Homo sapiens: one gene and its partner. The protein of the gene in region 2 purifies or fractionates together with the protein of the main gene of each other region. This does not show direct contact. Each region holds a gene or a part of one and is shown on either strand. Other genes may lie near its edges.

Region 1 (7,004 bases), on a different chromosome or scaffold from region 2:
AGCACTTAGCACTTCTGATATGATCCACAGTCCCAGGACACACTCAGCACAAAGAAGGGGACTCCAGGACAGCAATTCTCTGCAGTACACAGGGACAGGATTTCCAGGGAAACATGTAGTTTAGGGAAAAAAATCATTGAGTTTTTTGCTTATCAACAGGGGACAGAGGTTTTTAAAAGGCTGAGCTAGGGCAGTGGTCCACAGCCAGCAGCAGCAGCACCACTTGGGACAAGAAATGAATATTCATTACACCACCCACCCCCACCCCAACCTGCTAAAGGAGCCACTCTGGGGTGGCAGTGGAGCGGGGGGGATCCACCGTCAACAAGCCCTCCAGGTGCTTTGGACGTAGGACAGCGTGAGAACCCCTGGTCTAAAGACCGCTGCTAGTCCCTCCCAGGCCTCTCTCAGCACGCAGCCTGCCCATGGGCCAAACTCAGCAACTACAGGGACTGAAAAAATTCCCCTCTGCCTTCTGACACCGACTTGTCAGACATTTCTAGAAGTCTCCCTCCTCCTCCTCTCCCCAGGTGACAGGCAGGCAACAGTGCCTGGGCTGCACTGCCAAAACCAGTCCCAGGAAGAGGGGAACTGAGACTCCCTCGTCTCCTCTCCTCTCCTAACTGAGGGGACAATTGGGAACTTATTAACTCCAGAGCTCTCTGCCTTGGAAATTTCCAGAGGAATTAGAAGCAGGCATGGGAATACCAAGCCTCCCCCAGCCTCACTCACCAGGTAGACGTCACAGAGGTTGTGAAGCCAGAAGTGGTGCAGGGCATGAGTGACGAGCGAGAGCTCTCGGGTGAGGAAGCCCCGCTCACACTCCTGGGCAGCCAGGGCAAGGCGGCTCAGGATCCAGGCATCCATCGGGGAGGAGGGAGACAGCTGCAGGCAGAGGGGGCAGGATGGCCTGACTCCCCCTCCCCTGCCTCCTTTCCTTCCAGATGCCACCTTGGCCCTCTGACACCTGACTACCCTACTCCCAAGCACCTCTGTTTTCTCTTACCTCCTCAGCAGGCTGTGGCACAAATTTCTCCCCTAAAGCATTGAGGATAAAGCGAAGAGCATTCCAGATCTTGTTGCAGAAATGTCGGCAGCTCTGGACCTCAGAGACTGACAGGTGCAAGTCGCCCGCTGGAAGGGAAGAATCGAGGTAGTCTGCATGTAGGTGGCAGCAGCACCAGAAGTCCTGCCCCTGCCCTGCCCCTGCACAGGTGCCCGCTGCCCTCTGCTCACCCCGACACCCCTCGCCCAGGCTTACCCTGAACTCCATGGGAGCAGAGTGTGAATCTCAGGGCATCTGTCCCACACTCAGGGATCCCGTGAGGAAAGTCCTTTTTCTGCAACCAGAGGAAGAAGAAGGGTGGCAGATGCCTTTGTGGCTGCAGGGCCAGGACCTGGGTTGCAGAGGAAGCCAGAGGTGGTGAGCTAGAGCTGGTGGGGGGCAGGCAGCGATGACTCACCTGTGCTGCAGCCACAATGGCCAGCTCTGCAGGGTCCAAATTTCCGCTTCTCAGCTTTTCCTGCAGCACCTGGGGATGGAAGGGGGCAATTCACGACCCAGGTCGAAGGCCCTGCCTCTATAAGGGTCACACCTGCTGGCCTCACTCCTCCCTCAGCCTGCCTTCCTCTCTCCTGCAAACCCTGCAAACCTTGTCCCTCTAGTGGGTGCTTCGTCCTCACCTGCATCTCCACCCCACTGATGATGTCTCTTGGGTCCAGCACATTCCCCAGGGACTTGCTCATCTTCCGGCCCTGCCTGTCCCGAACCATGGGATGAAGAAGCACCTGGGGGCAGGGAGGGGTCAACAGAGGGGGGTTTCCTTGGAGGTGCCTTGGGATCTCTGGCCTCCATACTTTTGGGGGTAGGGTAGGAAGTGAATTAGGAAAAAGGAATCAGCAACGTGGAAAGGACCACATTAGGGGTTAGAAGGGAGGACAAGGTTTGGGGAACACTGGAGTCACAGAAAGCGGCAGGGCACTGAAGGGCTCTTACCTTGCTGAAGGGCAGCTGCCCTGTGAGCTGGGTCCCCAACATGACCATGCGGCCCACCCAGAACAGCAGAAGGTCGCTGCCCGTTTCCAAAAGTGACAGGGGGTAGAAACGAGCAAGGTCTGGGGTCTAGGGGGAAGAGGAGCAGTAAGAGGCCCAGGCCCCAGGCCCCCCTCAAGCCTCTGTGGGGGCCCAGCCATCCCTTCCTTATCGTTTCCCCTTCACTTTCGCCCTCTCAACCCACCTCACCTCTTGGGGCCAGCCCAGGGCAGAAAAGGGGAACAGGGCAGAAGAAAACCATGTGTCTAGGACATCAGGATCTGGGAAACAGAAAAAGAATGGGGACAGTTGGAACCTTGGCTTCTAGGACCTCAGACCACTGCTGCCACCATTCTAGGCCAACCCCCACCCCCAGAGACCAGGGCTGTCCCCTTTGGCTCCATTCCCAACTTTCCTGACCCTACCTTCTGTATCTTGGGATCTGTTCCCCTCAAAGGCCCAGATGCCCAGGCCCCCGCTCCCCTGTACATCCCTCCCCAGCTCAGGCACTCACCCCTCTCCAGGGTCAGCTCTGCCCCTGGCCTCCCTGTCAGTTCCGCTGCTACCTCTCTGGCCTCAGCCTCTGACCGCCCAACCACCCAACAGTCCTCTTCTCCCTGCAAAAGTAGGAAGGGGTTGGGGAGAGTGAGGAAGAACAGCTGACAGGTGTAAATGTCACTTGGTTTTCACGTCCTCATGTGGTCTTAGAGTGGCCAGGTTCCCCCAGGGGTGAGATAAAGAAATGCCACTTCAGGGAGCCTTGATCGCGCAGAAGGTTACATGACTATGAGCATGAAGCACATGACCAGGCAGGAGCGGGACTTGGCCCTGCGGAGCTCTGACTCCTGGGCTAGGTGCTCTGTGCCACACTCGGCCCTCCGGGTGCTTCTTCCTACCCACCTGCGCATGGTCCTCTACAACCAGGTAGGCTGGAATCTGATGGCCCCACCACAGCTGCCGGGAGACACACCAGTCCCTGCCGGGAGGACATTCGTGAAGTCTTAGAATAACCAGTCAGTCCCCCCTCCCCATCTCCACAAGAGCTCCCCTTACCCTACCCTTACCCAATATGGGAAAACCAGTGCTGCCAGTTCTTCTGGTGGAAGGAGGGACTGAGCTCCAGGGCCCCCGACTCCACAGCCTGGAGAGAAAGGGGACTTTAGACAATGTTGCCCTTCCTGCACGGCCGCACCTCCACAGATAGGACGAGTGGCCTCTGAGGTCATTTTAAAACTCAGAAAGGACCTCCCAAGCCTCTTGCCAAGATTCTGGGCTTGAGTAAGGATATGAGCCAGCCCTTGCTGGGCCGCCCAGCCTCCATCCCACACATCCTCTCAGTTACCACAGCTGGAGAGGTCTTCAGGGCAGGAGGTCTCCTGCTTCCCATTTCTTCATTCCAATTCTCAGGGAGCTCCCCCAACCCCTGGCCCCAGTCCTTCCTACACTGCAGCCTCACCTTGGCAGCTCGGGCCCCCATTTCCTGGCAGCGGACAAACCACTGGTTCTTCAGCAGGTATTCTATCACATCCCCAGAACGGCTGAAAGAGAGACAGGGTGAGTCCACTGCTCTTCCGGCCCTGTGACTTCTCCCAGGGGCACAAGACCCCATGCCATGCCAGGCCCTTGGTACTGAGGATACAATAGCGAATAAAACCGACACGGAGCTCGTATTCTAACGGAGGGGTGCAGAGCCCATCCTATTGTCACCCTTAAGCTCCATACATTCCCTTTTGGGGTAGCCCTTAGTAAAGGAGTTAAAATGAGGTTACCTGCAGATGGGCAGTACCATGGGGTGGTTCTGGAGGCCCCGGAACAGGCCCCATTCACTCAGCACAGACATTATCTTTTCCCGGGCCACAAACCGGTGAAGACCCTGGAGAAAAAGCGGCAAGAGTAAAGACTGAAGGCCTCTAGAGAAATAAGAAACTAGGAGGAGGATTAGGGGGACAGAGAGCCCCCAAAGGATGGGGTAACATAGGGTGGTACCACCTGCAGCCAGTCCCCGCAGAGGGAGGTCATGGTCCCATCCTCCGCAATGACATTCAAGGGGCTCAAGCCATGTCGGGCCCCCATCTCAGCATCGGCAGGACTGTGAGCTGGAGTCACCTTCACTGCCCCTTGGGGAGCACAGCCATGGTGAGTACTGAACCTGACCTTGGCTTTTGCTTTTCCAGATGTATCATCATCACCTGCACCGCCCCAGCCCCTGCGACTTTCTCTGTCTGTGCCTCCCTCCCATTCCCCACTCAGACCACCCTATATGAGGATCTCCCACTCCCACCTTCCTCTTCCTCCTGGTTCCCTCCCCTCTCCTCCAGGACCCCCAACTTTCTCTCCCTCCCCTGACTTCCACTCACCCGTGCCCACATGTGGCTGAACAGCATAGTCTGTGATGAGGGGAAGAGGCTGCCCCATCAAGGGGTGACGAAGCTGTCGCCCGTGTAGATGCTGAAGGGAAGGGAGAGGGATCAAGGACAGGCACCTGTGAGGGTTGGAAGGGTCTGGGCTGGGGCGTGAGAACCCCAGGAATAAGAAGGTAGAAAGTGGAAGGTAGCAAGCTAGAGCAAGGTCAGCAAACTCTTAAGGGGCCAGAATGTAGATATTTTAGGCTTTTGGGCCTAGAGACAAATTCATTCTCAGCACAATTACTCTATTATGCCACTGCAGCAGAGCTGGAGAGGGTATATAATAGCAGCCATAGATAATATAAAGGCTGCAAGCAGCCAGGCGCGGCGGCTCACGCCTGTAATCCCAGCACTTTGGGAGGCCGAGGTGGGCAGATCACGAGGTCAGGAGATCGAGACTATCCTGGCTAACACAGTGACACTCCGTCTCTACTAAATAACATTACTTAAAAATTACATTACTTAAAAAAAATTAATTACTAATTTTTGTAAAAATACAAAAAATTAGCTGGGTGTGGTGGCACGTGCCGGGCATGGTGCCACGCTCCCAGCTACTCAGGAGGCTGAGGCAGGAGAATTGCTTGAACCCAGGAGGTGGAGGTTGCAGTGAGCCAAGATCACACCACTGCCCTCCAGCCTTGGTGACAGAGCGAGACTCTGTCTCAAAAAAAAAGGCCGCAAGCTGGATTAGGACCATGGGCCAGTTTGTCAACCCCTGAGCTACAGAAAAACTATAAGAGGAGGAGGGAGTCCAATCAGAACCACTGAGAGAAGTCTCAGGAAAAGGAAGTAGAAGCAAGAGAGAAAGAGCCACCATTTAAAACCCAAGAGAAGAGAAGGCCATTGGCGGGGCGGGCCAGAGTGCAGGAGCGCACTGGGTATTACTGTGTATCGCGAGTCGTCTGGATGAACGGCCACAGCCACATCTCCAGGCAGCGTCTCTGGCCTTGTGGTTCCTACCACAACCTCTGCATCTGAAGATAAACATTTAAACACTTACAGCTGGTCATCATCCTCACCTCTCACTGCCAACATAGCTAAAGGCAGTAGAACTGGAAAGGGGAAGGGGCAGGGAGTAGTCAAGGTGGAAGAGGCCCCCAGGAGTGACTAGAAAAAAGTAGGAGCAGTGTTTATAGGAACCCAGGGTTTCCCATAAGCTGATGACCAGAGGTCTGAGAGGGTCTCTGGTGCTAAAGAATTCCCTGATAATTTGCATGGAAGAAATGGGGGCAGCATTAATTAAAGCAACTATAATAGAATTCTTGCTGGGTGCCCAGAGGACACTGGGGATTCTCAGTGTCCTAATCACAAATGCTGTACATTCCTCAGGGGGAGCACCAGCTCCTACAAGAAGCTTCCACTGACAATTCCAGCTCATCTGTCTTCCCTTTCTCTGAGCTCTTCAGAACATTTACCGTAAAAACCACACCTTAGAGGCCAGGTGCAGTGGCTCACGCCCGTAATCCCAGCACTTTGGGAGGCCAAGGCGGGCAGATCACGAGGTCAGGAGTTCGAGACCAACCTGACCAACATGGTGAAACCCCGTCTCTACTAAAAATACAAAAATTAGCCAGGCCTGGTGGCACGCGCCTGTAATCCCAGCTACTCAGGAGGCTGAGACAGGAGAATCGCTTGAACCTGGGAAGCAGAGGTTGCAGGAGCCGAGATCGTGCCATTGCACTGCAGCCTGGGTGACAGAGTGAGACTCTGTCTCAAAACAAACAAACAAACAAACAAAACAAAACATACCTTAGAACTGATCTCTTTCCTGGGTAGCGCACTCCTGAAGAATCACACCACACTCTCAAAGGGCAGTGACCACATGCACTTTTTGTACATCCCCCAGAAGACCCTGGGTAAGTGCCCACGCTGAGGTGAACACTACCAAGGTACATGTGAGAGATGGACTGATGGGTTCCTAGCAGCCCAACATGGGCTTCAGAAAACAGGAAAAATGGAGGTAAACGGGTGACCCTGCAGAGTACTATGCTCACCAGGCTCTCCATCCACGGGGAAGGCAACAGAAAATAGGAGGCCAAAAGACACGGGGGTGGGGCAGCCAGGCAGTCGAAGCTGTGTGTGGCCAGGCAGGGGCCGGTTCTCCACCTGGAGGCACCGAGAAAGCTGGGTCAGAGGGCAGCCTTTCTGCAAGGCTCATGCCCAGGCTTCACTCTGCCACTCATCCATCTGCCCAGCCTCCCTGCAATCCATCTAAAAGCCATTTGGAGGATTCGGGAGCTACCTCCCTCTGCCCTCACCCAATGCTCGTGCAGTCACACTTCTAATAAATATTCACTGAGCACTTAAGCCATGGCCAGGTATCTTGCCAAGCACCTATGTGAATTCTCATTTAATTTTTACAACACCCCCACGATGCAAGCATTCCATCATCTCTAATTTACAGACTGAGGAAGCTGAGGCTTAAAGAGACTAAACGGCCTGCCAAAAGCCACACAGCTGTAACAGGCAGGCATCAGATTTGAATCCAGGCACCCTGGCTCCAGAGTCTGAGCTCTTAATCATTGACCACTCTGCCTCAGAGCTCTCACAAACCTGCTTCCCTCTCT
Region 2 (6,892 bases):
AACAGTACTTATGATCTGACAAAGCAACTGCTGATTGATAAAAGGTGGAAAGTAATTAGAAAGGTAATACAGAGAACGATAATACTTTGGATACATGATGAAGTGTGATAACATCTATTTTTCTGGCTGGGGAATGAGATAAACAAATAGAGAACTGATCATGGTGCATGAAGCACCTAGAGAAAGAACATTTCAGTTGGGTGCAAAATGTAACGTTCCTTGTCTAGTTCAGAACTATGGCTACTCAAGGGGAGAAGGCAGGCAGACAAAGGACTGTCAACAGCAATGTCTCTTATTGTTCTTTGGCTACAGCTGCACTTGCATACTCATGCTGACTTCGTGCCCAAATGTTAACTAGGCCAGAACTTGATCAGACTGAAATCTGTAAAAGAAAAAAAAATCATCACAGATACCAAGAAAATGTATTTCCTTGAATCTGTTCTAACTCTGAATTTTGTTAAAAAATTAGATTTTTTTTTTTTTTTAGTGGGAGGAAAAGGAGGACAGCTCAAAACCACTTAATTCAGAATCTGCAGTGTAATTGTTATGGTAGGCTCAAATGTGATTTGAACATCCCTAGCTATGGGATTTGGTGACCAAGCTCCCAAGAGAGGATGACACAGCACAGGGAATAGCACAGGCAGCTTGCCTTGCTTTGTAGGGGGCAGAGATGTGAAAGTCCTTGTTGAGGTCAGTGGAGCTGAGAGTACTCTTCATAATTTAAATGGACACGGGTAATTTCCTTACATGTAGGCAAGCCAGCCCTAGGGATAGGAAGGAGAAAGAAAAACAGGGAGTACAGAATGCAGATGGCTGCCCTCTGCTAATTAGGCCTTACCTTTATATAGAATGCTTTTGATTTTTTCAGACACTTTCAGGTATATTAACTCATGCACAGAGGTCAAATATTATTATTATTAAACAAAGTGCAGAGAAGTATTGAGAATTAGCTCAGTTAATGAATTAGCTCAACTAGGTAATAGATGCATTAAGATTAGATGGGGACAGTCACTCTGGAATGCCAGGAAAACAAAACATTCAGAAATAAGTATAGTAACCACATTAATACAATCAAGGGAACAAGCCTTTCCTTCCAAAGTGACGGAAATTAAGTTTACTTGTTGGTGTCCTTACTTCCATATTCATTCATTTGTTCATTCATTTATCATGTATTAAATGCTTCCTACTTGCTTATCATTCTGCTCAGTGGGCCTGGGGGATGTAGAAATGAGACATTATCTCTTTTCATTTGTTGAGGCCCTACAAGGTGCCAGAACCGTTCCAGGCGTTGGGGATATAGTAATTAAAAACAAAACAAAACAAACCAAACAAGAAATGTATAAGCCAGTGTGGAGTAAGTCAATTAAAATTAACAAAGCAAAAGGAAGTAAGTCCTATAATAAAAATGCCTTGATGGATAGAGGGATGGGTAGATGACCAGTTATGTTTTAAAGCAAGTATATATATAGTACGATGTTAGTGATAGAGTCTAGGTGGTGGGTATACTGGTGTTTGCTGTAAAATCTTTCAACTGTGCTCGAAAATTTTTATGATAAAATATTATGGAATAAACACTATAGGAATGACAAGGAAGATGCAGATTTGAGAAAAGTTTATGAAAGACATGGCATTCTTTTTTTTTTTTTAAGAGACAAGTCGATAGAGGAGTGCAATGGCATGATCACAGCTGCAACCTCGAACTCCTGGGCTCAAGTGATCCTCCTGCCTCAGCCTCTGGTGTAGCTGGGACTACAGGTGTGCACTACCATGCCCAGTTAATTTTTGTACTTTTTGTGGAGATGGGGGTCTCATTATGTTGCCCAGGCTGGTCTCAAACTCCTAGCCTCAAGTGATCCTCACTCTTCTGCCTCCCAAAATGTTGGGATTACAGGCATGAGCCACCCCACTGGCCTTTGGCATTCCTTTATCCTCCTCCTCTTCTCCTTAACTACCTAATATCCCCATGCTAACCCTTAGCTGTAGGTTCAACTTCCAAATTCCAATGGGCTATAAAGAGTTCTACAAAAGTCCATGATGACTAATAAATCTATCTAGTAGAGAAAAGACCTTTTGGAGAAGAGGCTAACTCTAGGACCACCTAAAACTCACCCACTCCATAGCTATTTGGTAAGGCACCCCTTTAGGAAACTTCACCCAAATGCCTGCTTCTGGGTACCAGGTAGTGGCCACTCTCCCCATCTTTGTCTCCTGTCTGAGCTGCTACCGAGTTTGATGTTAGATGGTGACATAAAATACAGTAATTCCTAGATATATGCGGAGGGACTGGTCCCAGGACAGCCTACATGTAACCAAATCCACACATGAAGTCCCACAGTCAGTCCTGAGGAAACTGCACAAATATTGTGTTTTCCATCTGCCCTTGGTTTAAAAAAAAAGCTGCATAAAAGTGAACCTCACAGTTTGAACCAGTGTTGTTCAAGTGTCAACTTTAATTTAAAAGTGAAAAAAGTTTGTTTTCTCTGGTATCCTTTTTTTTGTTTTGTTTTGTTTTTGTTTTTGTTTTTTGACACAGGCTCTGGCTCTGCTGACCAGGCTGGAGTGCAGTGGGGAGATCATGGCTCACTGCAGCCTCGATTTCCCTGGCTTGAGAGAAAATTATTTTTTTCAAAATAATCTTCAATTTAAGGTAATTTACTAAGTTTCAAAAGATAATGCTATTGACGTAAATTCTGTTTTAGATTGTAGGCCCCATCAGCTCATTGATACTAGTCCCAAGTTCACAGGAGAAGAGACTGGAAGTTACTAGGCTAGTCCTGCCTCTCTCAGGTGTGTCCCAGCAAAACTTTTCTTTCCAGTTTCAGCGCTTTAGAAACCTTTTCTCTTCAAACACTAATACAGGGCCTAGACTGTACCAGCACTGTTCTGAGAACTTTACATACACTAATTCATTTAATTCTCACAAAAATCCTGGGATGTAATTGCCATTATTATTCCCATTTAACAGATAAGAACACTGAAGCACAGAGAGATTAAGTAACTTGCTCAGGGACCTGGATGTGAATGCAGAAATCTGGCTCCAGAGGTGGAGTCTGAAACTGCCTTTCTAAGTGACTGATTGCCAATCTCTGGAAAACCGTTCAATTGAAGATATTAATGGATCAAAATGTCAGTATGTTTTCAGATACCCTAACTCCATAGGAAGCTCAGTGTATGGGATGAGATACTGTGGTTTAGAAGGGAATTGCTTTTCCAACGGAGGGCACCCTTCAGATAAGCCCCTCAAATTGCCCTTCACTAGAGAGTCGCACGAGGACAGGCCTGCTAAAAAGGATGGCGCTGGGGGGTTTCCAAGACAGGAAATATCTAAAGCCAGCGGCTGACATATTATCTTGGCGAACGGGAGAAGGGAAAAAGAACCCTCATTTTTTGGAAACACAAGTTTTTAGCCTGGATAATGGGTAAATGACATTAACTCTTCGTTCCACACTAATCTTTCAAGCTTGTTCAAATTTTGCTTCTCAAACCTGGGCCATTCCTTCTTATCTAATCTGCCTATTATTTCCTTCAAGCTTTTTATCCCTTCTGAAAATAGGTGGTAGCATACCAAATTAAAATACAGAACAGCCTGTTTCTTTCCCCCAGGGTCCACTAGGGCGCGTCGGAGAAAGGGTTAACCGGGCGGGTGGGAGGGAAGGTCGGGCTCACACCTTTCGCAGAGACCTCGGGCGGCGGCGGGGCCCGGGAGGGGCGGAGGCTGGGGCCAGACGCCTCGCCGCCTCCGCCTCGGCGAATAGCAGCGCGCTGCCCGCCCGGATTGGAGCAGCAGCATCACGCTGACCTCTGCCTGGGATGTAAACCGGACCAGCCGCTGCGGGCAAAGGAAGGCTCTTGGCTCCTTCGGGAAACCCAGCCCCGTCACCGGGCTCCGAGCGGCTCGCAGGCGAGCGACAGCGGCCTCAGCCCCGGCAGCGCCCAGCGGCGGCTGCGGAAAGCGGAGGGAGTCCGACGCGGGCGCGGGCGGGGAGCGTGCGTCCGTTCGCACAGGCAGCGGGAGGAGGGGCGGCGCGAACCATGGCCGGGGACAGCGAGCAGACCCTGCAGAACCACCAGCAGCCCAACGGCGGCGAGCCCTTCCTTATAGGCGTCAGCGGGGGAACAGCTAGCGGCAAGGTACGGCGGGGCCCGGAGCCGCGCTCCCTTCCCGGCTTCTGTCCCTGGGCGGCGCATGTGGCCGGCGGCCGCGGGCCGTGTCAGTTGCGGCAGCCACCGCGTGGCCCGCGCGCCTCCGCTCCCGGCCGCGCTCCAGCGCCGAGTGCGCCCCGCGCGGCCTGGGGGCGCTGCGGCGGGGGCAGGCGAAGACTCGGGCCTTGGGGGTTCCGGGGGTACGCGGCCACGATCGCAGGGCGGGAGTGCTCCTCCGGCTTTTCTCCCCCCGCGTTAATAACTCGTGGCCGGGGTCCTATGGGGGAAGGGCAGGGAAGCGGATGCTTATTGTTTTGCAACTCCAGTGTCGGGGGAGAGGGCTTTCCGCAGGATCCCCCACTAACCCCCGATGGACTCCCTCAAGCCCCGGTCTGGCACAGACGTGCTCGCCCCGCGGCGCAGCCTGGTGCCGAGGGCGGAGCGAGCCGGGAAGCGCGGCCGAGAGGGCGAGGGTGGCGGGAACGCGCGAGGCGGCATCCCGGGGAAGGGGAGCCCAGTGTGGGGCTGCACGCAAGGGCTGGGGATTACAGGGGTTTCCGGGTAAAAGTCTGAGAGCCAAATAGGTGCCGTGACATCAATGAAACGATAATAGTAGGGGCTTCTGTTTTTTAAGGTTATAAGAGGAAACGTGGTCGGCTTCAATGAGAAAGTTGTACTGGCTCCAAGCTCTTCGGTGTCCAGGACGTACGCGTCTTGGATCCACGGAAGGGGGTCATCGTATGGGTGTCTGACCCTCTTAGGAGCCTGTTTCCTTTGTTTTATCCGCAAGGCAAGGAGAGACAAGGGAAATGACTTCCTAGCTTTACCCGGGGTTTTTTCTGCAGGTGGAGAAGGGTGGAGTCCTCCCAGATGGTTCTTTCTTTGCTCCCCTAACAGCCTTTAAGATGTGGCTACTTGTTTTTCCCACCGTTTAACACCCTCCAACTTCATTTGGAGCACGGGTTCCTCAAGGGATCCTGAGAGCTGGGTGCTGGGTGCTGGTTTGGAGAGGCAGGATGATGCTTCTCCCGGCTGGGGAGAGCAGAGCAGGAAGGCTGGTTGGCGCCATGAGGAAAGAGCCACGAGGTTTTAGCTCCCGAACCGACTCGTCAGTAGCCCCTCCTCCATGTTGGTTTTACATTTTTCCCTCCTGGTCTGGACTACTTTAGCGCAAGGAGCCCAGCCAGACACGGCGGCTGGCGCTGCTGGACTTCTTTATTGATGAAGTTGATCTCGTCCGTAGCTCCCGGGGTTAGGAATCGGCCTGCTTTAGGTCCTGAAGTTTCTGTTCTGTGTGCTCCCTGGTTGAAGGCTTTTAAAAAAATTTGTAATTTTTGAGTATGTTCTTTACTATGACTTATACTAGTAATTCAAAGCAAAACCAGAATGCTAGCCCTTCAGGAAGCTTTACCTGTTCTTTTAGAATTATTCTTGCTCTTCTGGCATATTCCTGTTGGATTGGGAGCATTTTTTGTTGTTGTTGTTCATGGCTGTTTTCCCAGCCCTCCTAGCACAATGCCTGCCTGGCATGTAGTGGGGTCCAAATTTTAAGCTGAAGTCCAGTCCTCCTAAAGTGGGGAGGAGGCTTAAACTTGCATATGAGCTTTTAGAAACAAAATGATCTTGGTAATCATCTGAATAATTTAGTTACCACGAGGGTGAAAACTGCGACCCTAAAAGGTGAATAACTCTGTTATTGTTCTTCTTGTGTGTTTCTCAGTCGTCACCTGTTCTAACTTGATAATCAAGCTTTTGGTGTTACTTGGGTAAAGTGAGGGATGGGATAGTGGTGAGCCAATGTGGGAGTAGCTAATTCTCTGCTATTTTTATCCAGGAGGAAGAGTGTAGAAACTCTCAAGAAAGGAAGGGTCCGTTTTTCTGCAGTTTTCAAAGCATGTTGTACATTTTTATTTATTAATTTAATTTTTGAGACAAGGTCTCGCATTTCCACCTAGCCCAGAGTAAGTGGCACTGTCACAGCTCACTGCAGCCTCAGCCTCAACCTGGAGTAACTGGGAGTACAGGCTGGCACTATCATGACTGGCTAATTTTTTTGTTTGTTTGATTTGTTTTGTTTTTGAGACAGGGTCTCACTCTTTTGCCCAGGCTGGAGTGCCGTGGTGAGATCTTGGCTTACTGTACCCTCCACCTGTTGGGCTCAAGTGATCCTCCCACTTCAGCCTCCAGAGTAGCTGAGACTACAGGCTTGCACCATCATGCCCGACTAATTTTTTTTTTTTTGTAGAGAAGGGGTTTTGCCATGTTGCCAGGCTGATCTCAAATGCCTAGACTTAAGTGATCCGCCCGCCTCTGCCTCCCAAAGTGCTGGGATTACAGGTGTGAGCCACTACCTGGGCTGGCTTTTTAATCTTTATTTTTTTTATTATTTTTTTTTTTTGAGACAGAGTCTTGCTCTGTTGCCCAGGCTGGAGTGCAGTGGCATGATCTCGGCTCACTGCAAGCTCCGCCTCCCGGGTTCATGCCATTCTTCTGCCTCAGCCTCCCAAGTAGCTGGGACTACAGGTGCCCGCCACCACGCCTGGCCAATGTTTTTGTATTTTCAGTAAACACGGAGTTTCACTGTGTTAGCCAGGATGGTCTCAATCTCCTGACCTTGTGATCCGCCCGCCTCGGCCTCCCAAAGTGCTGGGATTACAGGTGTGCGCCACCACGCCGGCAATCTTTATTTTTTGTAGAGACTAGGTCACCATGTTGCCCAAGCTTGTTTGTACATTTTTGACATACGAAT

The links.
Region 1: the proteins of UCK2 (region 2) and VARS2 purify together in Homo sapiens (affinity purification with mass spectrometry; 2 studies listed by BioGRID and IntAct, with this or other methods). This does not show direct contact.

Annotation. Positions count from the first base shown.
Region 1 is NC_000006.12:30,917,234-30,924,237, reverse strand, and holds part of VARS2 (valine--tRNA ligase, mitochondrial isoform 2 precursor), read right to left. Parts: intron 6,544-7,004; coding exon 6,432-6,543; intron 5,412-6,431; coding exon 5,323-5,411; intron 4,481-5,322; coding exon 4,390-4,480; intron 4,150-4,389; coding exon 4,022-4,149; intron 3,906-4,021; coding exon 3,802-3,905; intron 3,571-3,801; coding exon 3,489-3,570; intron 3,174-3,488; coding exon 3,097-3,173; intron 3,009-3,096; coding exon 2,933-3,008; intron 2,650-2,932; coding exon 2,547-2,649; intron 2,314-2,546; coding exon 2,243-2,313; intron 2,123-2,242; coding exon 1,997-2,122; intron 1,789-1,996; coding exon 1,684-1,788; intron 1,533-1,683; coding exon 1,464-1,532; intron 1,341-1,463; coding exon 1,262-1,340; intron 1,135-1,261; coding exon 1,007-1,134; intron 886-1,006; coding exon 733-885; intron 1-732. UniProt on the Homo sapiens protein: Catalyzes the attachment of valine to tRNA(Val) in a two-step reaction: valine is first activated by ATP to form Val-AMP and then transferred to the acceptor end of tRNA(Val).
Region 2 is NC_000001.11:165,823,802-165,830,693, forward strand, and holds the start of UCK2 (uridine-cytidine kinase 2), read left to right. Parts: upstream 1-3,812; 5' UTR 3,813-4,032; coding exon 4,033-4,131; intron 4,132-6,892. UniProt on the Homo sapiens protein: Phosphorylates uridine and cytidine to uridine monophosphate and cytidine monophosphate. Does not phosphorylate deoxyribonucleosides or purine ribonucleosides. Can use ATP or GTP as a phosphate donor.